Regions from separate parts of the Homo sapiens genome. Here all the other regions are reported to be linked to region 1. Evidence: microRNA targets listed by miRTarBase, many of them from high-throughput screens and not tested one by one. Region 1 holds a microRNA gene; each other region holds the end of a gene's coding sequence.

Region 1 (7,162 bases):
ATGATGGGGACAATATTAGTGCCTACCCCTTAGGGCTAGATTGAGTATTAACTGAAGCAAAGCATGTCAAACTTAGCATAGTACTGGACACATACCAGAAACAAGTTAATATTAGTTAATCTAATTCTTATGAAACAACTTTGCAATGGTTTGAAAATTCCACTGATTTTCCCAGCATATTTGGGAAGTCTCTTTAATTTCATCACACCAGTGGATTTCATCTGCTTTCCAGTTTATGTTGCAACTCCTCTTCCCTAGGACTGTCAAGTTCCTTTTCCAAGTTATCTTTAGTGTGCAATCGGCTAGATCCTTCCTTCTCCGCTTTTCGTGAGGGAATGAACAGGCACATACCCCTCATGGCCAGGCCTCAAAGTGCCAAGAAGAGAGGCCAATTCCCTTGACATTTCTCCGTGTTCCTCAGGGCCATCTGCTTCCCTTTTCTGCCTCATCACCTTTAGAAAAATCCTCTTTTGTTCTCTCGGTTGCCAATGAAGACTGTTGTCACAGTTTGCCAGAAGATGTACTGGCATGCCCAGTGATAATGGACTCCATAGATAGGACTTGGAGTCCTCACGAATGAAATTCCCACTTACCTGGACAAAGTAATAACAGGAGAGATGGCCTCTCAAAGAATACTTTGAAAAATAATAAATTCTAGAGAATTGTATATTCTTAGCATATGATACATCTCATATAAAAGAAAACACTGAGATATTCCTATGGACCTTTTTTCTATTAATACATTATTTGAACTATGTCTTTTTATAGTATTTATTTCCTTAAGATCTTAGACATAAACCTAAGTTTGCAGGGAAATACTCATGTCTGAAAGGAGATGTTCTTAAATTGACATTTTACATATATCAGTTGTCACAACTTAAGATCCCACCTTTACTCAATAGTGCTTAAGGGGTCATGGAGGAAGATTTGATTGATTGTTTTTTATGTATACAAGGGGCAGGCCGGGTGCAGTGGCTCACGCCTGTAATCCTAGCACTTTGAGAGGCTGAAGCAGGTGGATTGCCTGAGCTCAGGAGTTCAAGACCAGCCTGGGCAGCATGGTGAAACCCCATTTCTACTTAGATACAAAAAAAACCAGCCAGGCATGATGGCTCCCGCCTGTAGTCCTAGTCCAGCTACTCGAGAGGCTGAGGCAGGAGAATTGTTTAAACTGGGAGGCAGAGGTTGTAGTGAGCCGAGATCGTACCACTGCACTTCAGCCTGGATGACAGAGTGAGTCTCTGTCTCCAAAAAAAGACAGAGTGAGACTCTGTCTCCAAAAAATGAAAGTATACAAAGGACAGTTGTTTTACCCAGAAAGGAAGAAATAAGAAAGTCAATTATTAGAAATTTGTTTAACTGGCATGTGTTGAGTTCCTATACCTTATTAGATACATTTGAACATTCTTTCATTAAGTTCTTAAAAAATATGAATTAGGTATTATTTTCATCTCCCATCTTACAGATAAGGAAACTAAGATTTAGAGAGTATAGGTCACTTGCCCAAGGTCACGGACTACTGGGAAGCAGGGACATGAATTGAATCAAACTCTTTTCAAATCTAAATTCAGTGCACTTAATTTCTGTGTCATGCCATCACACTTTCTCTCCATGAAAGCTAATTTCTCTTTTAACATTAGGTTTTATAGGTAGTTCTACTAATTATGTTTGTGAAGTTTTGTTTTCTTTTCCCTTCACAAGGGCTGGACACAGATCAGCATTCTCATGTTATGAATGATTTAGCTTCGGATTACTCTTCTGCAAATGGAGGGAGGAGGCAAACCTCAAATTAAAGGCAGGGTTGGAATATAAAAGTCTCAGCTCCTCAAGAGTCCAGAAAAACCTCCTCCCAAGAGTGCTGTGGCCTCTTGGCGCCTCTCCAGGCCCAGCCTGCCTGCAGGACTTGCTTGCTCCATCTTGCCGGTTCTCAACGGAGAACTCTTTGTTTTGGACCCTGTTCTTGTATTCTGCTCAGTGGACTTGAAAATTGGAAGTTTCCTTGCTTCCTGGTCCTTCCTGTGCCTGGGAAACAGACTTGGAATTCTTCTTTTCTTCTCTTCATTCAGCAAAAAGACAACCCCACCAGTTACCATTCCTTGTATTAGTTCTTGGAACCCAGCCTGGGCCAACAGTTAGGCCCCCTGAGAAAAGAAGCCTAACTTCATTTGCCTAGTCCTTCCCTCAATAGATTAAGAAATGAAGAGAAAAAAACCTTCTTAACATATACTACATAATACTAATATTTACTTTAAAAAAAAAATAAAGGCTTAACCCCTGCATTTTCATCACTTGAGAAAATTGATATAAGCTAATATTTTCAATAATTTAAAGAAAATAAACCATTTCTTTCCTGCTCCCCTCCCCTTCTGAATATTCGGCATAAATAGTTGCTTGGGTAGAATAAATTCTCACTATTCATTGGTTTGAATGCTTGTGTATATCCCAAGGGTATACACAATGACCTCTACACACATGACCTCTGTTTTACATAGTCAACTTTTATTTTGCTGAGGCAGAAATAATGCATGCAGCAAAGACTGCCAGCTGTTTACCAAAATCCCTTCTCCTCTTCTTCCTGAGCACACAGCTAGACTATACTTCCCAGTCTCCATTGCAATTCTGTGTGGCCACATACTAGAGCTCTTGCACTGCTGTGTTTTTGCATCCCCTTCTACCTTCTGGCTTCCTGAGATGGAGCAGACTATATGCAGTGGACCAGGATGGCAAGGGCTCTACTGTCCTTTCAGGAGAGCCCTTGCCATCCTGGTCCACTGCATATAGCCGAGCTCCCACTGACCTGGAACCCTCATCCTGGACTGTTGTCCAAAAGAGAGATAGATGTGTTTTTCCCTCAAACATGAGAAGCTGAATTTGGCGGTCTATTTGTTACGATATCATAGCCTGTCCTAACTGAAACAGGGCACATGTAGTATGTAGCACAAGTTTCTTAGCTAGTGAGAGTGCTTAGCAGAAGCTCAGTGCCTGCCCTTCACCAAGATTTGAGGTTTCCTACTCATGGAGTGTCATCAGTAACTCTTGCCAAGTGATAAATCTTTTGAATATTGGTGGAATATGATAACACAAAGTAAACTAACCCCTAAATGTTGGTAGCAAAAGTAAAATACAATTGAGTGTGTCTTAGAGGGCAAAGGTTCTTGGCTAAAAGGTGGTTGTTTTCTAGAGTTTAACAATAAAATACCAAACTCATATTAGAAATAGGAATAATTTTACCATATGCTCCACATATAGAAAGAATAAAAAACTCAATTCTGGAACTGTTTCACCAAATGCTTCAACCAGAATTTTAAAAATAAATATATAAATAACTATGGTCCTGAATTTATAATATTAATGATATGTAGGAATAATTTACATTTTTTGATTTAACTCACAACATTTCAGGTAGAAAATTATATGGTATATATATGGAAATTTAATGATTTACACACACCCACACTTACATATATACCGACATACAAAGTTATCACCTTATGATATATTCCTTCTAAATATTATTTGTTTGATCCAAACTCTAGGATGAATTTACCTTCTTAATTCTCTAAAACTATGATATTAGACCACATATTTTTGCATCTTAAATTGTAAAATTTCAGAACATAGAGAAAAGAAGAAAAGAGATATAAATGATATTTATTCAAGACTATTGAACTCATGTGGAAAAATAGTCCCCCGAGGACGTCAGGTCCTAATCCTTAGAATCTGTAAATACTACCTGATACAGAAAAAAGGTTTCTGTCTGTAGGAACCTAAGAAAAGACATTTTTAAATTAAAAACAATTAAAACATTAAAAATTTAAGGTCTTTATAGGTATGATTAAGTTAAGGATATTGTGATGAAGAGGTTATCACAGCTTATTAGAATGGGCCCTAGATGCAGTCACGTATATCCTTATGAGAGAGAGGCAGAGGGAGAGCTGACAACGAGGAGAAGGCAATGTGATCAGGGAGGCAGATGGGAGTGATGCAGCCACAAGCCAAGAAGTGCTGGCAGTCCCATGAGCAGGAAGAGGAAAGGCCAGATTCTCTCTTAGAGTTCCCAGAGGGAGCATGGCCTGGCTAACTCCTGGATGTAGGCCTAGTGAAACTGATTTTGGAGTTTTGTCCCCTAGAACTGTGAGAGGATAAGTTTATGTGGTTTTAAGCCATTGAGTTTGTGGTGATTTGTTATAGCAGCCACAGGAAACTAATCCAATTCCATTTTCTAACAGCTGAGTTCAACTTTGCTAAGTTTATATCTGTGATATTTTATCCTAAGTCTTTGGGGACCTAAGTTTGTTTTCCTTTTCCTTGGCCTGGAAAAGACAAATGTCCCACCCATTGTATTACATGTTGTTGAATGTCTTTAGTGAGCTCAAGAGAGGGAACATCTCTCTTCTCCAGCTGAGTCTGAGTCATTGAAAAACAGAGTAAGATAGATAGAGAGGAAATTATCAATTTTATCATTGTTAAAGTTGATTTTGGAGGATCGCCTTACTATCACTGAATCTCAGATTTAGAGAGACTTACCTACCTTATTTCCAACATTAGACAATGTACTCTAAAATGTAGGGTCTGAAATAGCAGAGCAGAAAGTATGCTTTCTCTATGCACATAGCTCTCAAGAGAATGAGGAGGTAAAGGGACTCAATAACATTAAATGATTCCCTCTTCTCCTGAGAACAGAGATGTCAGGACTGCTGTGCTAGTGGAAATCTTTTTATATGGAAAGAAGTGCTGGGAGTGGAGATGAAACATTTCCTATGGTTCCATCTCCTTATGGGCCAAGATTGACAGCTATCTGTGGGCAGAAACAGTGACACTCTAGGCTTTACAAGCCGAGTGGAAGACAACTTAAACCATAGATAGATAGTAAAGTCCTAGCTGCTCTCAGCTTAAATGTGAATTTTGGACTTGGGACAGTGTTTAAGATCCTAAATGAGTCTGCTGAAGTCTAGTTAAGTCCTGAATATCCCCCGATTCACACATGGACCTTTGTTTGTTAGCATATTCCACCCACCTCTTCTTTTAATCTGTTAAAGGAGACTTCTGCTTTATACAATCAGGTAATAAAATCTGTCTTTATAAATATACTTGTTAGTATGCATTTAGAAATCTAAGTCCTCACTCTTTTATAGACAGGCACTAATAGGTTACCTACTTTTTTCACCAAATGATTCTTACTTGAAAATTAAAAGAACATTGCATTTAGTGTTAAAAGCCTGTAACCTCAACATGAGGTCTCAATAACCCAGCTGCTATCTATTTATCTTGGTAGATTCATTTATTCTCTCTTTCCTAAGGTTATTTTAACAATGTTGTGTTATTTGTAATAAAAGTTGCTTTTGTTTCCACACTGGGCCAGAATGGATTGAGTAATAACATTAACAAATACCTTGAGCTCACATCCGCACCTTTCACCCTGAATTGTTTTCCAATGCTAACTCATTGTCTCCTCAACATTCCAGTGGCTCAGTGACAGGGGGTATTATTCCCATATTTCAGAGAGAAAAAGGAAAGCATGAAAAAGTCAGAGCACACCTGTATCTAGAAATCAGAGCCTTTGATAATGCTATTCTACTTTTTTTTCCTAAGGGCATACATTGTGTTAAGTATCTCTCCTGGTTGTTCTGAGTGAGATTGCTGAATGTGCCTTGGGCTGCACTGAGGGAAGCATTAGTTGGAGTCCTGTGATTGTGCTTGATGATTAAAGTGTGACATAAACGTTGAAGTACCTACTGTGTGCAGGGCACAGTGTACTTCTACTCTAAATCTTTGGGAATTCCTGAAACCTTGAGGTTTGAATAAGGGTCAAAGTGGGGGCATTGACTTCCTCTCCTATCCTTGCAAGTTTGCTCAGGTAAGGGAGCATTATAAGACCAGGAAAATATGATTATGTCATTTTCAACTAAGGTCCAAAACCACAGAATACTGATCATTTTCAAGGGGTTGACCATTTTCAGTTCTCCATACAATGCTTTCTATCATCCCAATGGGACTTCTTAAAACTGAAACCTTCTCTTTTTGGTGTTATCTAAAATTAAAAGACTTCTTATTTTTTCAAGAGCAATTGCTGTGAACCAGAGGAATTGTGAGCCAGAAATACCAATCAGCAAACGACATTGATGATTCACAGCATTTGATGAAGCACAAAATCTTAATATCGCAATCTCTAAAGGTACTGAAAGTTCTATCTTAACTTCATGTTTTTAATACATTGGAGTTTCTCAAAAGAAATACATTCTTATCAACTGCATTTTTAAACAAAATATTTTCATAATATTGAGCAAGAAATTTGCTGTGAATCATTCAAAGTTATTCATTCATTCTTTTAAAATTTACTTAGTGAACAGGTAAAAACCCATTGATGATCTAGTAACATATTATTTGGTTGTATTTTTTCTTTGTCTTTAAAGGTAACATACTTTACAGACACAACTTTTCATAATGATTTCCAAAGGAAGGTAATTTTGTTTTTGTTTTTTTTTTTTTCAAAAGAAAAATTCACTTTGCTTTCCTAATTTAAAATTTGTCATTTATTATACGGGTTAAAAGAACATAGTTGAGTTCTAAACCTCGTAATGGCCTACAAAGTCAGGAACTGATTGCCTACATCCCAGTAAATGACAGACCTGCATTCTTACTTGCTAATTTGTTCTAGAATGCATCTTCTTATGCAATATTCATTAAATCAATAATATTTTGGAAGAGTCATCTATGGGTCCAGTGCCATCCTAGAAGCCATGGAATCTTTGAAAAGCAAGCTTCTAACTTTAGAAAACAAGAAATATAATTGGGAAATTAGGAAACAAACAAACAAAGAAAACCCCAAGACAAGAGTAAAGCAATACAGGAAACAGACCTCAGACTGTGTAAATGACAAAGACTTCATGGAAGGTAAAGAAAGACCTTTCTCATTGGATGAGTGTCTTATCTGGGAAGACTTTGTAAAGGAAGTGAATCCTGAAGACATAGTGAAATGTAGATTTCCTGAGAGGGTTATAGGCATATTTCATCCTCATTAATTTTTTAAAATTATGTCATTAATGTGTGGGCATTACAGCACATTTGACTGTATATAAAAATATGATGTAATAAAAAAACCTAGAAATGACTAATTCAAATCTTCCTGTTTCTCTCTACTATTCATCATGTGTATTAATAT
Region 2 (7,162 bases), not on the chromosome of region 1:
ATAAATATACTTAAGTTTTAAAAGGGGAGTCAGCTTAAATTATTAAATAAGTAAAAGTAAAGATGGGATTCCACTAATGTAGTTATAAACATGGCAAGAGTTTGAAGGAAGCTACTGGAGCCTATTGATGGAAGTCTAACCTCTCATGGTACAGTTTGGGGAATGGTACCATTGATCAGGCAATGATTGCCAAATGCCCAAAGTTGGCATTCAGGCTAGTGATAGCTCCAGGTCTCCTGGTGTCCAAATGTTCCTTCTCTGCTCTCAGGGCCTTAGTTTTGTCATCTGTTAAGTGGATTGTTACGATGACAAGCAAGATGAGACATGGAGAATTCCAAATTCTGAATACAGAAGCAGGTCTGCAGGCTGATTAGTATAGTTATGTTTTGTCTGGCCCTAATCTCAGGAGTGGGGTCTACCATGTTTACATGTTTACCCTTGTTTCCAGGTGACTTCCAGGACCTCATCCTGAATGTAGTTGGGATGAGAAGATGATGTGACCTCCTGGTCTCCAGGCATCCATGACCTAACAGACTGCACTGTGTCAGGATTCAGCTATGCCTGGTGCAGCTGGACTAGGTCCCACTCTGGGTCTTATAAGGAAGGATCGACTTGTGTGTGGCCTCCAATGCAGTTTCACTTGTCTTCAAAGCCCTCCGCAGAATGTAAGTAAAAATCTGATCCTGGAATTGCCCTTGGCGAGGTGAGCAGCCAGGGGCCACACACAGAAAACAGTCTGTTCCTGGTGGCGTTCGGAAAGGCCAGTCACACTTGCCACCCCCGTTGTCATCGTCCCTAGCTTCAGAAAGCACTGGAGCCAGGTTGACATGCGGCCGATGAGTCTTTGTTCAACTTGAGCTCAGATGGACACAGAAACATGAGAGGAGCCAAGTCCTATGTTTAAACAGTTAAGAGGAAGCCAGGCTCAGTAAGGAACTACAACCCGGGATTTAGCCTGGTCCAATTTTCCTTCTCTGGGATTTCCTGTCCTTTTTTGTAGATGTTTCTATCTATCGAATGTTCCCTGGTCATTGGTTGAAGGCCATCAAGTCGGCGGTGAAAGTCTTACCCAGTACTTACACAGTACTTCAGCTTAGCTGCGAAAATATCAATGAGCTGCCGAACTGTGTGGACCCCAAGCCAGGCTGATGGGACACACGTGCCAGGCCTCTGTCCATCTGCCCTTCACGGTGGAAAAAGAGCCCAAACTTTAAGACTGGGCTTAAACAAAGCATCCACACAAAGAAGTCCAGCCTGCTACCCCAACAACTGCCAGGGGGGCAGGCCACATTGGGGTTGGTGGGGGACAGAAAACCGGTGGGTCTTTAAGGAATGCAAAAGAAGGGAACCCCAAAGGCCCCCTGCAATGTCCTCAGACTGCAGTTAAAATTTAACAAATTTTTAATGTAAATCATCTGGCATACTCAATTGCATGGGGTACACGGGATGGGTGGGGGTGAGGGGTGGCAGCAGGGAGGGAACAATGGCTAGGATTAGATAATTTACTTAGTGCTAAAATTCCAGGAAGTTTGTGTTGATCTGGGCCTGGATCTTGTTACTTTTTAGCTCAAATCTAAATCTTTATCTTCCTCTAAGAGTTGAGAGGACATTTATTACGTCGTCATTTTTACAGTTGTAATTTTTACTCCCTTTCATCAAATAGAGCTGGTTAGATTAGCAGCTCTTAGCACTGAGATGAAAATATTGGTAGGGCCCAATGGGTCCTGTTTTGTTTATTCTAACAGAGCAGGCTTTGATCTAGACATATTTCCTGGGGTCTGGACGAGATGACCTAATTCCTGTCTTATCCGTCTCTACTTTTCTGTGAATCTCAGATTGCGCTTTACTGTGGAGCCCTTTGAAATTCACTTTATACTTTTTTCCACTTTGTTACCCACTCTGACATTTGTTTCATTTGGGATGGAGTGTGTAACTCCTAGCAAATAATCCATTGCTTTATTTTTCTAACAGGACTGCTAAGTTTTAACAGAGTAGGAGCTTTTTTTTTTTTTTTTGCTCTCTCATTCTTGACATTCACGACATGCCAAAAACAATAAGCAAATAATCTACTGCTAGAAATTTATGTCAACTGCAAATCATTAAGAATTTTCTGTTTGAAGACATTTTTTTCTTGTAATTAAAAAAAAAAAATGCCCTCCCTCCACTCCCTAAAAAGCCATTTGAATAGACCTGGCCTGTGAAGATTGGGATGTAAAAACTCAAAGCGCAAAGCCAGCTTCAGGTATCTCCAGCTGATCTGCAGGACCCCTCCCTTACGCTACCCACCCTTCCCCAACCCAGACCGGGGGTGGGGGTGGGGGGGGAGGGAGGGAGGGAGGGGTCATCTCGAGCAGCTTGGGTTTGTCATTGGTTCTCTCTCTCTTTTTTTCCCCTCCCCAGGTCCCTGTCAATCACCAAACTGCTCTTCCAAGTATATTTTCCAGGAAGAAGGAAGCCCGTGGCGGGGGGGTGGGTGGAAAAGGGAGGGTAGTGGAGATGACGGGAGAAGGAAGAAAGAAAAAGCACGACGGAATATAAGGAAGGAAAGATAGAGAGAATGAGAGAATGACAGCTACCCAGGCAGAGAGGAAGAACAGGAAACGCAGTTCCTGGGGAGGGGTGGGGGGAACAAAAACAACAAAAAACCTCGAATAAACTACAAATTCCTAACGTTTGTAAATTTTGAGTGATAGACACAAAGCGTTTCTTAAATTCTTCTCTGGGCTGTTCTGTATTTTTACAATTCCCCCCTTTTTAAAAAAAAAAGCTGGGGAAACTGTCACCAAAGTGAATATTTTTAGCTAAACAATTCTGTGAACTTAGTTGCAGCAACAATCCTTCCTTAATTCAGTGAATTCGGTTCTCGGTGATTTCAATACCACCACGAGGCACCTCTAGTGAGGCGTAGCGGGGCAAGGGTCGGGGAGTAGGTGAGGAGGGGGTGCGCGCCCGTCAGCTGCCTTCACCTCAACCCTGTTGCTTTGTAAATGTAAATCCAGTTCTGTTCTGCGGGCCGAGCCCAAAGGCTGAGTGTATTTTTCACACTGGGAGGAGAAGCAGGGCAGAGGGCGATTTCTTATTTTGGAAATGGATGGAAAGGGGAATGAATGGGCAGGTAATAATCAATAGATTAGAAAGATAGTCAATCAATAAATGGATAGGCAGGGACAAAAGGAGACACAGAGAGAGAAAAAGAGAGAGAGAGAGAGAGAGGAGGGGGTTGGAGAGAAAGAGACGGAGAGACAGAGAGACCCTCTGACCTTTTCCTAAACTCTTCTGATGGCTCCGGAAAGAGAAGTGACTTTTGCTCCCCTTAACTCACTTTCAGAAACCGCTGGAAGGTGGGAGGTTAGTGATGAGAGGGAAAGGGAACACAGCGCCCCCGCTCCCCTCTCCCCACTGCCTGCCTCTTGGAAATGGACGCGCAGCCCAAGGTGGTGCAGGGCGGTGACCTTCGCGCCCGGCCCGGAGTGCGGGAGCCCCGGGGACTTGGCGGCGGCGGCCATTGGAGAGCGGGGTCCAGCTGCTGGCAGACGCTCGGTGGAAAGTGTCGCGGCGCAGCCCCTGGACACCTTTGGAGAGGGCCGGCGAGGCGCCGGGCATGTGCGGCAGGGTGGCGCTGTCGAAGCCTGCCCCTCTCGGTGGGCGGCAGCCCCCCGGATCACTTCCCTCAGATGTCCCCAGGCCCTGTCCCTGGGCGTAAAGGGCGCGCAGCCCGGGGCAGCCCCTCCTCGCCACGCCCAGCGATGGGAAGTTGTGGACGTCGTCTGTGCAACGGAAACAGCTCCATCTGGCCCGCGCAGAACCAGAGTTCTGGCTGGAACTCCGGCCTTCAATCCGTGTCCCCACTCTTGGGGAAAAAATGTCACTCCTGGAGCGGAGGGGACGGGACAGGAGAGAGGAGAGCGAGAAATCTGTCCCTCTAAATGTTCGGGTGCCAAGCCTTCGGGGTGATTCTCAGCATCAATCACGACGTCGCGCAACCCTCTCCCCTGCCCCCCCCGCCGCCCTCTCTGGCTTTGGGGGCTCCCACCCCCTCCCCTGAACTCTCCCGGCCCAGGTCAGCGCCCACCTTCTGGAACGCCGGACCCGGACCCGGACCCGGACCCGGAGGCCGAGCAGGGGTTGAGGGCGCCCCCTCGGCACAGAGTCTAACGACAGGGTCGGGGGAGTGCGGACCCGAGTGGCCCGCGCCCTGGTGGAAACTTCTGCAGGAAGCGGCCCGACGCTTTCTACCTTACCTGGGCACAACCGCCGGATGCGCGGTTCACCAGCTCCCTGAAACATTAAAAAAAAAAAAAAAATCGGCGACCCCTCTGGACACAGCTTCCCTTCAGTCCGTTTGCTCACCTCAAAACAGTGCTCAGGAGGAAGAAAGCCTGTTCCCCCCTCCGCCCCAGAACAACAGGGAGAGGGGAAGAATCCATTTGAATTTGCTTGATGAAATATTCAAGCTGACTCTACATAACCTTTCTAATAGACTTTTTCTTTCAAATATGCATGTGCGTTTAAATGCCTAAAAGACCAATTAAATAAAGAACATGTTGACCTCTCTGGGTTGAGGCCCAGTTTAAGTCAGATTATATAACCCCGCAGCATCAGGAACTCCCCAGCAATGTGGCTCTCAGCTGCCTGAAAAAACGTGACTGCATTAAGTGAAATAAAACCAGAATAGTAAAAGTGAAATCTAAATCGGCATAAATATCTTGCTTAAAAGAAACTTACCTGTTGGGTTAAAACCTCCAACAACATCTTTTTATGTCATTTCGTTGTTTTGCTTTTCTTGGGGGTGGGGTGGGTAGCGAGTGGAGTCTATAAAATCCATTCCTAAATAAATCATAGATACTGGGAAAATATCTAGGGCCTCCAAATTTCAAAATAAAAGAAAACGCAGGCCCATGCAAAGCCGTTTGTTATGCCTTTTACAATTCCTCATTTAAAGAGGGATACACACTCACATACACAATTGACTGCTGCCTGGGGAAATGTTAAAACGCATTTGGGGCCTGGCTAAATGGAAATGCACTCTAAAAACACAGACACAGTATTTTGTTTTATCTGTTGCAAAAAAAATGTATTTGATTACTTGAGTAAAATTACAGTATCTCTGTTGTTAGTAAGTATTAAATGTTAAAGAAATTGGACCCCCCCTTTCCTTTCAACTTTCCAAGAAAGTGCATGTAACAGTCCAATTTTTTTCTTCCATACCTAAGACAAAATAAACAAACACTATACCTGCTCTCTTGATCAAGAAGAAGCATTTGCTCTTGTAAGGAACATATGTACATTTGAATGAAAGTGATATTTCTTATTGTATATACAAGAGCATCTACATTTTCTCCACTGAAGGTTGTTCAAGATGCTATACTTAGCAGCATTGTGAAATTCCAGCACACATTTTCTATCGTGAATATACCTACAAGGCAAAATGTTACGTCTCAGTTTCAACTACCAAAACAACGCTTGTTTTCTTTTTCTCTAAAGAATTCTGCGTGCTTATTACTGTACAGAAACTTATTAACATTGAAGACGACTCAAGTAAAAAGCACAATACAAATAGCAGTTCAAAATGGAAATGGTTAAATCGACAAAAAAAAAGGTTGAATTTTAGAATAAAAATTAAAAAACCAAACCTTTCAAAGAACCACACTGTTCAGTCTGTACTTTCAGTCCTTTCCTTAAATCTGTTTTGAAAGATTAGACAATGTGTTTGCTGATAAAATTTTCCAGCAGGATCAAAGTGTACATGTATATACAGACTTTATTAGAGATCTAATGCATCACTGAGGCATTGCATCAACACCAGATTCATATTAAACTGGATATAGAAAATAAGTTAATGCCAGATTACAACTGCCTAGCAGGGCAACTTGCAATTGCCATAAATGTTACAGCAAGTTTACAGCACTCTAGTCAATTAGTATTTAGTCCAAAATACAGAAGACCAAAGTTAACGCTTGCATTCTGTTTGCAAAGCAAGGTTATATCGCTAATAAATAAGCTTTCTTAGAACTCTAAAGTTGAACAAGGTACAAAAGAATGTCTTCATAATGTTGTAGTTCATAGATCTGGGGAACAGAAGGAAGGGGCGGGGCGGGGTGGGGGGCAAGGAGTAGGAGGCCACCATAGGTCGCATTCTGAACAGGAATGAATGCTATGTCTCCAGCCCGAGCTGCTTTAACTCGTGACGATCTCCTTGCTGTCCTCCACGAAGCGGGTGAAGCGGAAGTTGGTTCCGTTCTCACTGCTTGCCATTTTCTCCAGGCCGGCCAGGGGAGCATTGGGCTCTGAGTTCTGGAGCCTCTCCAGGTTTCCCGTCAGCCCACTAACAGGTGAGCTGTTCCCACTGCCGAGGCTTCCAGGAATTGGAGGGATGCCACCGTTCTGAATGACGGAGATCTCGTTGGCCTTCATCGCCAGCCCGTTGGAGAGCGCTGCTGCATACTGATTCCAGAAGCTGGAAGGATCCCCACTTCCTGATCTTGCCGCCAAATCCTTCTGGAACATTTCTGGGAACTTGACGGGATTGCCTCCTAGAAATGTCATGGGGCCATCCACAGAGAGCCGCCGACCCCGTCGTGCAGGGGTGCTATTCCACATGTGAGTGCCCATGTGTACCTGAGATATGGGGAGGGCAGGCAGAGAGACAGAGAGAGAGAGAGAAAAAAAAGAGGAGGGGGAGAGAAGCTTAATAGCTGAATCTGTCTCAACTCATATCCCAAATGTCCACAAAGCAAGTGGCCTAAATGTCTATTCTCATCATGTGACAGACAGTGAAGGCAACAGGAACCATCCATTCCTCCTGTCTAGTAATAACGTGTTCACTCTCTGCAGCCCTGGGCTGTCTCCCCTCTTCCAAGGCAAGGATGCCTTACTTACTCTTTTTTTATTAACCATATTTAGCTTATAATGGCCTCAAGCAAGCCAGGCAGTGGCGGATAGCTCCTTTCAGGGTTAGAATTGTTAGGTCCACTCTCATTGCAATGGTAAGTATTGTATCTGACACCCTTTACCCTATAAATGTCCTTTTCAGATGGGGAGAAGGTATCCCTCCCTGATTGCCCATTGGAGGGCCTGCGTATGGAGAGAAAAGCCAGAAAGTAATTATTCATCTCACATTACTGGGAGCAATCTCCAGAGAAATACTCTGTCAACAGAAAAA
Region 3 (7,162 bases), not on the chromosome of region 1:
AAGCACATGGGGCGATTCAATGAGTGCTTCTTTTTCCTGGCACTTAGTAGCGCCCAGTCTAGCAGGGCCAACAGACATGTCCAGAGCCCCAGTACACACACACACACACAGAGATGTACAAATTCATACACTGCATGTAAGAATCAATGTGTGCACAGGAGGAGAGAGTGGCTACCTCCACAGCGAGTGGGGCAGGAGTGCGGGAAGGTCTCCCAGCAGGTAAAAGTCACCTTACCTGAGGTGGAAAAATGAGTGGCAATTTGACAAATGAAGAGGGGCAGGCGCAGGATGTGGTAGCAGCGGACCATAGGCATGGGACTCAACCTGTGCGGAGCCCCAGGGGTAGAGAAAGGATGGCTATTCGGGATCTATAAATACCCACAAGAGCCAGGCAGGTGACGCATGTCAGACACTTTGGTGTATTATTCATTTCTATTTTTAAAAATGTCCTCCTTCCTGCTTTTCTTGACTTATACCCACTTATCCTTTATTTTTCCATCTTTGATTGAAACTTAAATCTTTCCCTACTCGAAGAAAACTAGCAGTCCAAATCCAATTACTGTATCAGTTCATAAGTGCTACATGGCTCCTGCTGGGAAGTCAGGTGGGAGTGGCAAGGACTGGGGCAAACTGGAGAGCAAATTCTTCTGCTGAAGAGGACAGCCATTCTTCAACTCCAGTTGTTCAGAAGCTCCAAATCTTGCAATTTCTCAGAAAAAGCAAGCAAGCAACCTGAATTTTGATACATGAGTCAAATTTTTAAACAGTGCCTTAATGGAAAAAAAAAATTCTGCAGAACAAACAGATGGAACATACCCTCATGCTAAGCCTTATTCATGGACCATGCTTGCAAGCTTTCATTTACAGGCTCTCGAGATTCCAAGAGCATTTTCAGGATCCTTCACCAAATCGTTGCTCTGCTTATAGTTTCTCCTAACCATCCTTTTCCCCTTGCTTTCCAGAAAGAAATGACGAGCAGGATGTGTCACTAATGCTCCACCTCACCCTTTGGAAGAAAGGAAAGCTGTTTCCTCCTGGTGCCCTGAGCGGGCAGGAGGTGGACCACCCTGGCTGAAATGACACACCTACTCCCAGGAACAGCAGAGGTGGAGGCAAGCAGTGACTCCTGAGAGACATTCCCCACTCACTTTGTGTGCTCTTAACCTTCTGAGTGCTGCTAGCCCAGACCTGTGGACGAGGCAGACCACAACGTGAAAGAAGGACCAGCCCCTTGACCGTTCTGGCTGGGGAATTGTCCACGAGGAAGCCTCTGCACTTCCACACATGGCACAGTTCTGCCTGTGACCTGCCGCCTAAGCTTTACTGGAATTCAGGTTTTGAGACTGAGATGCGTGTTCGTATTTTTCCACTTATCTGTCTTGTCAGCTGGCCGACTTCTCTGTGATTGGTTTTTTAAGTGCCGGGTGAATTTTGGACCTCTGGATGTGCAGCAAGTTTTTATGCAATAAGCCTTCCTTTCAGGTCTCTAAAAGCTCCTGCTCTGATCTGTGGTTTAACACTGTGCAGGGCTGTGGAGCTCTGAGACACCTGAACCCCTACCCATCCCCTGCACCTCCCTACTCTCCCTGCCGAGGCGTCCATAGCATTTCCCTAATAAATAGTTTTATCAGGGACACTCCATGGGGTGGCTTGTCTCTGCCCCAAACAGGGTCTTCACGTTCTAACTGCAGGGAAGAGACTGGTTACTAGCGTAAAGCTGACAAGTTACCAGTTCACCTGATCAGAATGTATTTTTTATAACCACCATCATTCCTTGTCTCTTCAGTGGAAGATATTCTTTCCTGTTTCCCAGAAGAGAGAAATAAAAGTCCTAAATAACTAAGAATGATCAGCGGGAGCGTTGGGCATGATTACTGCAGTGTTTGTTCTTTATTAAAGACAGGGAGTCGTGGCTGTCTCTACATAATACTAACATTTCAGTGAAAAAAGTACAATTGGTTATTTGGTACGTGTAGATTTAACACCCAGACGGCTGACTTGTAACCCTCCCCACTAGCCTTCTGAGCATTTAAACCCAGCCGTCATTCTCTCCCCACTCCACGCTCCCCACTCCTCTGCCACGTTATGTTACGGCACAAAATTAATTTCTGCCCCTGTGATTGGGCCACGGTTGCCAAGGTAACAGTGGAGCTGGAGCTAACTTCCTTCTTTCATCCTTTCCAATTTTTCTATTCCAGAAGACAGTCAGAATAATGCATTCTGTACTACATCCTGCCTTTTGAAACCTAAATGAGTTTTCGTTGATGAAATGTTGCCTTCTCTGATTCATTCACAAAACTGTGGTGGTTCTGACCACCTGTGACGAGGGGGGTCATAATACTTCCAGTGATCCTTTTAATTTAGCAAAATATTTGTCGGTGGAGGGAAGTAGATAAGAATGTATTAGTGTATTTTAAAGTAATAATGATTAAAGAATAACTAAATGACTCTGATTTTGTTTTATCAATCATAATGTGTTAAAGCCCTCTGTGGCTGCCACAAAAGACTAGAATCATGAAATCTTTGTCCAAGCTAAGAAAGGGCTGTCTCTGTGGGTACAGTGGCATTCTCTGTTGACCTAACCAAGCAGCCTGAACCTTGCTTTGTGTCTCGTAAAGGTCATCTCACGGAATCCAATTGCTGCTACCTCACCATGTTGCTGTGCCCTGGTCAACAATAAACATACTTTTGTCCCCCTTCCTAAGTAACTTTGAGAGGACAAGATAGGCAAAGTTTTTTCCCTACATCTCTTTTGGCCAAAAGAATATCTGACCATCACAGAGATCCAGAGAACAGAAACAAGAGCCCCTAAGTCCCAGCCTCTGCAATACACAGTTACCAGATGGGAATGCAGCACAGTGGCACAGAGAGGTAACTACGGAGCCCATGCCCTGGAGGAACTCTGTAGCTGTGCATCATGGAACGCCACAGGATTTTTACATTAAAAAGTTGAATATGTTCCTGCATTTCAGCAGTGCATAATCGAGCAGGAGGCTGGAATCTGGAGACCTTTGTTATTCATTCTTTTTAAGGTTATTTTTTATTAACTGTGCATATGAAATTTCCACTCAATTTAAAAATCCAAATCTTTTTAAGCTTCTTGGAAGAATTTCCTCCTGCTTATATTGTTAATTGCACTAATGAACTCTTCTAGGGTAAATTCTGGCAAACTACCCTTTTTTTTTTTTTAATCACAGAATATTCCTGTTCCCACAGAACTTTGGCACATTCTGAAGAAAATCTCTGCAGTCAATTTTTATCTCCTCTGCTTGACTGCATCTAACTGTTCATCTCTGTTATAAATGGAGCTTCAGCCCTCTGGGTCAGAGACTGACAACCCTCCTTCTTCTTCCTAACCTGTCCTACTCTCCTTCTTTTTCTGCTTTCATTTTAATTTTGGGAAATTTTAAAGTAAAAGTTTCAAAGTTGAAAGATTATAGTGAGTACCCTTATGTCCTTTAGTGCATCAGTTGTTAATGTTTTGCCTTGTTTTCTTTTCTTCCTTTTTTTTTTTTAAGAGAAGGGGTCTCTCCCTATTTTACCCAAGCTGGCCTTGAACCCCTTGCCTCAAGTGAGCTTCAACCTTAGCCTCCTGAGTAGCCAGGACTATGGCATGTACCACCGCACCTGCCTCACATTTTCTTTCTCACTGTAAATACACATTCTTATTCTTGAACCTTCTGAAAATAAGTTGCAGACATCATGAAAATGTAAAATACTTCATCATATTCTTTCTTTTAATAAGAGCATTGTCCTATAAATCTGCAATATTTTCACGCCCATGAAACTGAACACTGATACTGCATAAATCTAATATATGATCCATATTCAAAATTCTCCAGTTGTCCCCAAAATATCCTTTATAGCTGTTTATTTTTAAATCCAGGATCCAATCAAGAATTATACGTTATATGTAGTTGTCATTCTCTTTTGTTTCCTTTAATTGATTAGAGTTGCCCTTTTGTGTGTGTCTGAGTGGTGGGTGGTGGGGTGGTGTTTGTGTATGATGTGCAGTGTGTGTGTGTGTGGTGTGTCTTTCATGACACTGACATTATTAAAGAGTTCAGGCAAGTTTGTGGAATGTCCCACAATCTAGACTTTTTTACTGATTGTTTCCTCATTACGAGATACAGGTTACATTTTTTTTCCCAAGACTGCTACATGTGTGATGTTGTTTCCTTACTACTGCCTCACCTCAGGAAGCACATAATGTCTACTTGTCTCTTTTCTGATATTAGGACTGATCAGGTGTTGTCTGCCTGATCCAATCATTATCAAGTTCCATAATTCATTATTAAGCTCTGAAATTCAGGACACATACATTTATAGAGTGTGAGGCTGTGCATACGTACATTCATCCCTTAATGTTCTCAAGGAGGCCCAGGATCCCCAAAATATTATAAGCATTGCAGTCAGATGATATAGCACTAGCAAAGCATTCATCCCTTTCCATATAACAGGAGGGAGGGGAAGAAGGAAGTTTCCATGTGCAGGCAATACGTGAGAGCATGGGCAAGTGAGGATTTGTATGCTCCCTGTAGCCAGAGGTGAAATATTCAACGCTTTTATTTTTTCTCCCGTCTTCAATGACCTCCCATTTGGACCCATAGTTTATTTATAGAGAGCACACACTCCCTAATTGTCAGATGGTTTTTTTGGGAAAACTCTTAGATAGTACAGTGAGTTGTGACCCTCCAAAGGATCACAAGTACATAAACAGATACAAAGTATTTATGTGGTATTAAAATTTCATGGTGATGGTGCAAGGGAGAGATGATTAGGAAGAAAATGTCTTACACGGCTGTAATTGAGAAATACTGATCTAGAGTCATTTCCTGCTTCTTAAATTGTTCGTTTTCTCTTCCCTGGGTATTTTCTCATTTCCAAAGACCCAGAGTCTCAGAGCCAGGTTAAGTGGAAGAAACTTTGAGAGGTTTCTTAATCAATTCCTTCTATCTCTCAAACCATGCCAGTAACTTCCTTGGTGAAAAAATCTATACTCCTCTCACAGTTCTTCGGGCATGGAAATTCTATAGCATTCTTTGGTATAACCAACCCACTGAACCCTCCACAACATCTTGAATTCCATTCAACTCGAGCTGAAGTATTCTTTTTGAGTTTCAGTATATCTTTTCTAGTGTCCCACTTTTAGAAAGGTCCAAAGATGATATATAATAAGTGAAAATACAATTAATCAGAGCTTTATTTGCATATCCATTAAATATCTGAAGGCTATTACCAGTTGTGCTTCAGCCTCCTTTCCCTTGCAATTCTCCCAGGGTGGCATCCTCTACGGAGTCTTGTTGCTCCATTGTTGACCACTGATGTAACTCAACGTGAAACCTTCCCAAAGCTCTCCACATCACTCTCTGTTATGGCTGTGACCAGCAGTGAACATGAAAAGAACTTATTTCATGCCTTCTCCAAACTATATTGTTTCTTTGCTAAGTCCAGACCTGCTTTTTCTACATTTATAGGTTTTCTATTTTAATCGCCATGCAAAATTCTTTATCATACTCAATCATTTTGGTTTATCTTCCTGACTTCTTACCTTTAACATCCCTGTTAAAGATTACACTGTTGTTGTTTCAAAAAAAAAAAAAAAAAAACCTTAATTGGCAAAACATTAAGGGACTTGAATAGAATTACACTTATCTTTTTGTGCTGATTTATGTCAATCCATCATTCTGGTTATTGATGGAAGCAAATTGCTTCCTATGTTCTCTAAACCTTATGTCCCTTCCATACTCCATGAGTACCACACTGGGAGAAAACAAAAGCAAAAAGATTGTGGGAAAAGTATAGCCATTATCTTTGAGGAAATGTGTACCAAGGCACAATCATTAAAAGGAGTTGGAGGCATCATTTGGTTGACACTGTTGTCATTCTTGTTCTGATCATTTTGGACCTTGAAGAAATTGGTGATTCTCTCCTAGAATTAGACAAACAAAGTGTGTTTGGAAATAATGATTGTTTTCCTGCCTTAAAAAATATATTAACAGAAAGCTTTTATAACAGGCTGTTTCCCTCTGGACAGGTATTAATTCTGAGTAAGAATTTTCAGTGACTACATAAGGATTTGTGTAACTTATGAAGGAAGAGTCCATTTCTAATCAAATAATTCGCCTGTTTTACTAGCTTATAGTGATCTGATTTCAGAATTTTCCTGTATCTTTTTTACATACATCAGAAAAAGAAATGTTTACTATATTTTTGGTTCCATTTATGATTGTATTAAGCATTTGACTATAAGGAAAACTAACAATTAAATCAATTAGAAAAGCAACATAAAATTAAATGATATTTAGGAAATCAGTTATATGTGAGCTTGGGTATTCAAATGTCACAAATAAAAAGCATATAACCATTATCTAGTCTGTCTTTTTTTAATGCTTGGTTCATTTCTTTAATAAATAGGTTGTCTTGCAATGGTCCTAGAACAGGTAAATAAAAGGAAAGCTGTTAATTCTACAAAAACCAATTCAAAGTTCATTTGAAAACACATGGGTGGCTGGCAAGATGGCCAAATAGGAACAGCTCCGGTCTGCAACTCCCAGCGAGATCAATGCAGAAGGCGAGTTATTTCTGCATTTCCAACTGAGGTCCCCAGCTCATTTCACTGGGACTGGTTAGACAGTGGGTGCAGCACATGGAGGGCAAGCCAAAGCAGGGTGGGGTGTCGTCTCACCTAGGAAGTGCAAGGGGTCAGGGAACTCCCCTAGCCAAGGGAAGCCATGAAGGACTGTGTCGTGAAGAATGGTGCACTCCAGCCCAGATACTACGCTTTTCCCATGGCCTTCACAACTGGCAGACCAGGAGATTCCCTTGGGTGCCTTCACCATGAGGGCCCTGGGTTTCAAGCACAAAACTGGGCAGCCGTTTGGGCAGACACCGAGCTAGCTCCAGTAGTTTTTTTTCATACCCCAGTGGCACCTGGAATACCAGTGAGACCAAACCATTCACTCCCCTGGAAAGGGGGCTGAAGCCAGGGAGCCAAGTGGTCTAGCTCAGTGGATCCCACCCCCATGGAGTCCAGCAAGCTAAGATCCCCTGGCTTGAAATTCTCACTGCCAGCACAGCAGTCTGAGGTTGACCTGGGGCACTGGAGCTTGGTGGGGGGAGGGTTGTCCGCCATTACTGAGGCTTGAGTAGGCAGTTTTCC
Region 4 (7,000 bases), not on the chromosome of region 1:
GCGCATGGTGGCTCACGCCTGTAATCCCAGCACTTTGGGAGGCCAAGGAGGGAGGACTGCTTGAGGCCAGGAGTTTGAGACTAGCCTGGGCAACACAGAGAGACCGTGTCTCTATAAAAAGTATATAGTTTAACTTGTTTCTGTGGACAGCTTTTTAAAGAAGACCATCATGTGGGTATTTATCATTCAGTATGTAGACTGTGGCAGATGTTTAATCCCACCCTGCCCCTCGCTCCTGCTATCAGGAGATAGTTCTGGGACAAGTGGTTTTAGCCTCTCGTAATCTCCATTACACCGCACGAAACCACCCTAAGAGGCTTACACTGCAGGCTTCTCTACATGCAGCTCCAAGCAGAGGCCCCAGCCCCAGGCAAAACCTTCTGGGCTTCCCTATGATCCGCCAGGCAAAACTGAAATGACATTTTAACACTACCACCTATAAAATAAAAGCAGGAAGGTAAATCTGACTGAAATCAAATCTAGTAATTATTTTAAAGGTAATATTCCAAAGCCAAAACAAAACTGTGGGGAATGGGAGAGGTCTTTGTTTCTTTCTGATAGATGATTTAAAATGATCTGCTATTAGGGACACTTCATCCCTTAGATGACCTATGGGGTCCCCTGCGTTACTAACAAACAGCAGCAAGCGATCAGTATCTAACTCCGTGTCACTCTCTGAGAGCACTGTGGCATCAAGAAAGGTGTCCCAGGAGACCTGGCCTAGGCGCCCTCTCTGTCGCCAAGTTAATTGCATGGCCTTGGGCAAGTCACTCCACCCCGAAAGCCTCAGTGTGTCCATCTGCAGAATGGGGCTGCCACCTCCTCTCACCTGATGTTATGGAGATGAACGGAGTACGTGCAAAAGCTCGAGGGGCTGCCTGGATGGCCCGACGCACTGCCTTGGGCCAGTACACACAGTGTGGGGCCTACCTGGACATGGTGCTGGGGAGCCTTCGGGTCTTCAGGCGGGGAGTGGGGGCCGGGGAGAGACGGGTAGCACTGGGTGGGGTCCACTTTCCTGGGAACCTGCTTGGTAACTGCGTTTCCTCTGTGTTTCTTCTGTAGGAAGGCCAACAGCTCAGGAGAAGCCATGTCACTGGGGAGCCACAGCCCGCAGAGTGACTCCCTGACACAGCTTGTCCAGCAGCCGGATATGATGTATTTTATTCTCTTCCTGTGGCTCCTGGTGTACTGCTTGCTGCTCTTCCCACAACTGGATGTTAGCAGGCTCTGATACGTGTGTCTGGATAATAAAAAAGACAGGACCCTGACCAGGGGCGGGGTTACTTCATTTTATTTTGGGTTCTGGGTGGGGCACTTCTACAGACAGTTGAGGACCTCCGAGGAAACTTAGACCCCCTTTCTCGCTATTGTGGTTTTTTTTTTTTTTTCAGGTTTCCTTTTTTTTCTGGACAACCTGAGCATGCTTTTTTCTTTGGCTGTGTACTCAAAACTCAGGCATGCAGCTGGATCCGTAGGTGGGGTTTTGTCCTTGTGTGCCTTGCTGGGTTGGATAGGGAGCATTGTTAGTGATCATTAGCCCGCCTGGATCTTAGCACACCCCACATTGCAGGTTCACACGCTGGATGAACTTGAGTTTCTTACCTCTCAGATGAAGGGCTGCTTAATGAGAAAGAGGGTGGGCACCCCAGGCCAAGCCCCAGCTGGGGAGAGAGCTGCCACGTTTTCCTCCAAGCGTGGGTGTTTGAGAGAAGGTGCTGGGGTCCATGCACCTGTCGCAGTCCGGTAACTGGTTGCATTCACTAGGGGAAATCCGAGCAGCCAGCTCTGTGTAAGCACATCCAGGAATGGCAGAATCCAGGGAGGAAGGTGAAAGCTGTGTTGAGAGCCACTGTGTGCTCTTTTTCACCCTGTTTTTTTTGTTGTTTTTTTGTTTTGTTTTTTGTTTGAGGGGAGATAACACTTGAAATTCAGTTTTCCATTGATTGGATTGAGATAGAACCATGATTTTCAAACCAGATCGCCAGGGCCCAGCAGGGCCATATAAAAGCCATGAGGAGTGGCTGGGCTGGAATCAGCTCCCAGCAGTGCTGGAGCTGGGTGGTGGGGTAGCTTCCTGCCCACTAAAGCTTTGGTGCACACCTCCCTCAGAATGCATGTCTTGGAACGGGCATTCTTTGTGGTCACTTGTAATGGGTTTCTTGAAGAGGCTTTCTGGACAGCACTCCGGGAGCAGGCCAGCACAGGAGGTTTGTGAAAGAAGAGAGGCATCTCTAGCACCCCTGCCCCCAGTCTTCCTCAGCCCCAGGCTCCCTCTGCTCTCTCCTCCCTGCCAAGACTCAGGTCCGTGGTGAGTCTCTGCATTGGTTCCTCCTCCCCTTGCTCTCCCCTTCAGAAAGCATGTACCAGGCAACCCTTATAAAATCACAAATGAGTCAGGAGGGGACTCAGTGAGCATCTTGTCTAGCTGGACCCAGAGAGACAGAGCAGCTTGACCAAGATCATATAGCCGACCAGGGGCAGACTTGCAGTGAGCACACAGGCACCTGATGCCCTGTCCAGAGCTGTCACCCCTTGTAGGAAACTTCCACTGGGCACACCAATGTCCTGAGAAAAAGATAAAATGACTAGATTAAAATGTCCACATTCAAGCAAAACCAAAAAGTTTAGACCAACTATCGACATTTGTTTTGTTCTTGTATTTTTCCCATGAGGAATTCTTACTCACCTTCAAGCTCATCCCCAATTCCTTCTGAAATACCCTTGACAGCTGCAACAGCTTGTCATTTGACATACCAGCGTCGCTCTTACTCCAGGAATCACGTTTCTTTCTTTGCTAGCCAAGGACTTGCTCATTTCAAGCAGTGGGTTTCAAGTTTACAGAATTCCAGCATGGCCAGAAGAATTTACATAGCACATCTGAGTCGATGACAGCCAAAATCTGGCCTCTAAACCAGTCTGATTATAGTCTGTCTCCCCTCCTGAAAGAATTTCAGCCTTCCAACCAGAAAGCTGCTGGGAGCTTGGAGTGATTCCATCTGGAAGGCCAAGAGCCCCATGGAAAATGAGCTAATTAATGAGCTCCCTGGCATCAATGAAAGCTCAAAGGTACAGATAATAAAGATTATGTGATAGTTTATAACTCTGGGCACCATGCAGTCCTTGCCTAAATTAGATGCTCGAAGAGCCTGGGAAGAGCCAACCCAAATGTGAATCATTTCATTTTATGGGTCTAGACCTTGTTCAGAAAAACCTCTGCAAGATACTTCTCTCACCTATTACAACTTGTAATATTGTTTAAAACATCTACTGGCAAGATGCCTGAAAGTCATTTGGTTCAGGTTGGCAGTCAACTGATATTTTGCAAAGGAAAAAAAAATCTCATTTGAGTATAGGCTTCTATGGAAGAAGCTGGATATAGAAAATGGATGTGGAAGTCTGCAGGACAAACCACCCCATTGCTTGTAAATTTTTTTTAAATTAAAAGAAATACAATAAGGCTTTTAACAAGAACTAGCAGTCCCCTAAGTCTCGCTGCTTAGAAGTAACCACTTTCAACTCTCTTATGTTTGCATTTCTACATAACGTGCTTACACTTTATTTTTTAATTTAGAAACATCTACTGGCTTGCTGTCACAGTAGAGGAGGATTTCACTCTTACCATACCGTGCTTTGGTTTTCCAGTATAGCTAGATCACATCATTTAGTACATTTCTATTAGGTGTTGACATTACCTGGAGCACTTAAGGATTGTTGACTCCCAAGCCCAGCAGTGTGTTATGGTTACATGTCCTTTCTCCTCCAAATGTCCCCATTAATTTGCTATTCTCTCTCTTTACTTTTTTTTTTTTTTTGGTGTGGCACATTCTTTAATAACTTCCTGAGGAAGAGAACATGGGAAGTAAATATGGTTGTAAATATTTTGAGATTTTTGCATGACTTAAGATGTCTGTATTCTGCCCTTAACAGAAATGTGGCTGAGCATAGAATGACAGGTGGAAAATAATACCCTCCCCTAGCCCCTCCCAAGCGTGCTGGTTGAGATTTCTGATGCCATTCTGATTCCCGTACCTTTATATGTGACTTAGGTTTTTTTATCCACCCTTCCTGGAAACATTTAAGATCTCTTTATTCTTGGTGTTCTGAACTGTCATGATGGTGTTGTATCCCGGGTGTTAAACCTTGTGCTGGGCCTTCATGGGAAATTTCTTAAATTTTCTTGTGATTATTTACATTCTTTCTTTCTGGACCACCTATTATTTCAATGTTGGACCCTCCCCTACACCCAGGCTGATGCTCTAATATTTTTTATCTTTTCTATTTTTCGTCTATGTTTCTGATCTGCTTTCAGGAAGAATTATTCATTTTTATCTTCCCAATCTGAATGTTTTATTGAATTTTTATTTTCCAAGTTAATAAAACCTTTGGTTATTATCCTGTCTTTGTTTTACAGTGTCCTGCTCTTGATGCGTGGATGCAGATTTTGTCTCTCTGTGGACGTTAATGATTGTGGTCTGAGGGGAAGTCTTTTCTGCTCCCTGTGTTGCCCTCATTTTCTCTGAGTTCTCTTTATTTTGGTGGTCTCAGTCTCTATCTTTCACGTTGTGAATTTTTCTCAAATATATGGTGATCCTATGGATCTGTTCATGTTTTAAGAGTGAGGCATCCAAAAGCTGATTGGAAGTTGTGTGTGCCAACTGGTGAGCTTTTCCACTAGGGTCACCAGGTGGGCACCTGGACTCATCATTGGAGAACACTGCCTGTCAGTATTTGCACGTGTTTTCTCTGGGGCTCATTCTGTTTCTTGAGAGATATTCCCACTACTCTCCTTCCTGGGAAACGGGCATACACAGGGCTTTTAGCCTATGCTGAGTACTCATGTGGTTTCAAAAATGGTGTCCCATCTGGGCAGAAGTCCCCATGAGCACTTGGCTTGACTGGCAAAGGACACCTTTTGCCCCTTCCTCCAGACATACCCAGCTCTGAGCTTGGACAATGCTCGAGGAACAATGAAAAGGCTAGATTTTAACTCCTAATTGCCCTCTTTAGCCAAGTGCCTCTGTGCAATGCACAACTGTAGGACCATATCCAGAGACCCTGGTCTATACTCAGTGTGCCCGAGTCCTGACCGCTGAGCAGGCAGCCTCATCACCCGTGAGTATTTAGACTTTCATTAAGTTGCTTCAACCTTTGCTGTGCCTGGTGTCCCTGAGTTGGAGCTGCTCTGATTTCTCCATGGAGTAGGAGCACAGTGGTCATCTGGCTGCATGGGAAGGACAGGGGACCTCAGAGCCAATAAATGCCCTGGTCTTCAGCCCCATGTCTCACCCCATCCCTCCTATTCCAATCCCCAAGCCTCTCCTGGAGGCCACAGGGCATCTCTGCTGACCACTCTGTGGCCTCCCCTCTGCAGGCATGTGGTTTTAGGATCCCCCTCCCTGCTCACTTTTCCATCAGTTCCATTCCTGCATAAATAGGTTGCTAGCTCTTGCTTACTGTTCTCTTCTGTATTCTGTGTTCATGGTTGTATTAATATAACTTTCATTCCTCTGCTCCTATTTTCATGGGGTTTCATGAGGGAAGAAACAGGCTCATGTGTTCAGTATACCATCTTGATCCATAAACCCCATTTGAGTTATCTCACAGGTTGCTTAGGGGGCTTGCTGCTCTGACTGGTTTGTGAACGTGCCCTGAGTCCAGCTGGGACTGCAGCAACATCCATCCTGTTGAGCTGTGGTCTGCTAAGTGATTTTGTGTAATGCTGTGCCAAGTGCAGGAGAGGGATACATAGCATGGCTAAGCTCTGCTTGAATGCCATGATTAGTTATTACCTTCCTTCCTTCCCCCTGGTTTTGCTGCCTATTGTCAGTAAATGATCTTAGATCTCCTGCCTCCCCAAAGATATAGTCTATGTGGTGGTCTGGGTTCTAGGTTTTCTTTACCACCCTTGCTTCACTTAAGAAACAGAAAACTGGCTAGGCACAGTAGTGGCTCACACCTATAATCCCAGCCCTTTGGGAGGCCAAGGCAGGAGGATCGCTTGAGGCCAGGAATTCAAGACCAGCCTGCACAACATAGCAAGACTCCATCTCTACAAAAAGTTAAATTTAAATTAGTGGTGGCATACACTTATAGTCCCAGCTACTCAGGAGGATGAGGCAGGAGAATTGTTTGAGCCCATGACTTTGAGGTTACTGTGAGCTATGATCCTGCTATTTTACTCCACCTGAGTGACAGAGCGAGACGCTGTCTCAAAAATAAAGAAACAAGTAGTCCACACAGGTGTTTGCCAGCAAACAAACAGCGCGGATTCTCTGTTGAACGTGGCCAACATTGCCTCGTCGAAGTTTGTATCTTGCCATAGTTGATGATCAGGTGGTCGGGGCTTCCTGGTCAGACCTGACCTTTGTGGGGAGATGTTCTCCCACCAAGGCTCAGAAGCAGGACACTCTTGCTGCCCCTCGGGCAGCCACCCAGAACATGGGCGTCTCCATTTCTGAGGTTCAGCATAGTTCCCCCCACCCTCTTCCCATGCAGTGCATGCCTGCTCTTTATCAGGATGGAACAGAGGGAAGGCAGAGGCACTGGGGGCAGCCTGTGTTGTTGATCTCTGTAAGTCACAGACTGTTCGAAAACCTCAGGAATTATGTAAGCGTTCAGTGCCTCATTTAAGAGATGAAAAACTGAAGATTAGAAAGAGGAAACGACTAGTCGCCCTGCTAGTTGATGACCTCCAGATAGCCATCTTCATTCCCAGTTAAGTTTACTACAAAACCACAGCCTCAGCTGCTGAAGCTAACCTCCCTACCCACCATCGCTAGGGACTCAGAACACCATGGAGCTCATCTCTCCAACAAAAGTCAGAATTAGCAAGTACAGATGTGTCTTACGAAAATGTCAGAATCCATCATGGCTGCTTTGGTGAGGAGCTGTTCTCCTTCCGTGGTCATGCCATTGGAAGGCAGTTGTATGACAAGAATGCTTTCACATGAGCTCCGATTTTCTTAACTCTCCAGAAGGACTTCAGAAGCCTCTGGAG

The links. The annotated mature microRNA hsa-miR-4776-3p reads CUUGCCAUCCUGGUCCACUGCAU and lies in region 1 at 2,706-2,728, opposite strand. An mRNA with a match to its seed (bases 2 to 7 or 8) in the 3' UTR can be bound and repressed. Matches are read on the target gene's strand: a 7mer-m8 pairs with bases 2 to 8, a 7mer-A1 pairs with bases 2 to 7 and ends in A, and an 8mer does both.
Region 2: miRTarBase lists SALL1 as a target of hsa-miR-4776-3p. Seed matches in the 3' UTR shown: 7mer-m8 at 5,877-5,883.
Region 3: miRTarBase lists MOB3B as a target of hsa-miR-4776-3p. Seed matches in the 3' UTR shown: 7mer-A1 at 3,164-3,170 and 7mer-A1 at 5,617-5,623.
Region 4: the mRNA of CLMN is a reported target of hsa-miR-4776-3p. Seed matches in the 3' UTR shown: 7mer-A1 at 4,900-4,906.

The regions. Positions count from the first base shown.
Region 1 is chr2:212,921,876-212,929,037 of GRCh38, reverse strand. MIR4776-1 (microRNA 4776-1) reads right to left here and starts at 2,781; the gene lies at 2,702-2,781. It overlaps MIR4776-2 (microRNA 4776-2), which reads left to right and starts at 2,702; the gene lies at 2,702-2,781. RefSeq lists an enhancer at 1-270.
Region 2 is chr16:51,130,935-51,138,096 of GRCh38, forward strand. It overlaps SALL1 (spalt like transcription factor 1), which reads right to left. Exons shown (of 3, transcript NM_002968.3): 3 at 5,048-6,618. The coding sequence ends at 6,178. LOC105371253 reads right to left here and starts at 4,957. Exons shown (of 2, transcript XM_017023963.3): 1 at 4,242-4,957; 2 at 2,814-3,871. The coding sequence starts at 4,287. The coding sequence ends at 3,267.
Region 3 is chr9:27,324,417-27,331,578 of GRCh38, reverse strand. MOB3B (MOB kinase activator 3B) reads left to right here. Exons shown (of 4, transcript NM_024761.5): 4 at 963-6,370. The coding sequence ends at 992. Among named protein-coding and RNA genes, the nearest start is that of EQTN, 31 kb to the right of the region's middle.
Region 4 is chr14:95,185,798-95,192,797 of GRCh38, reverse strand. CLMN (calmin) reads left to right here. Exons shown (of 13, transcript NM_024734.4): 13 at 1,066-7,000. The coding sequence ends at 1,234. Among named protein-coding and RNA genes, the nearest start is that of DICER1-AS1, 32 kb to the right of the region's middle.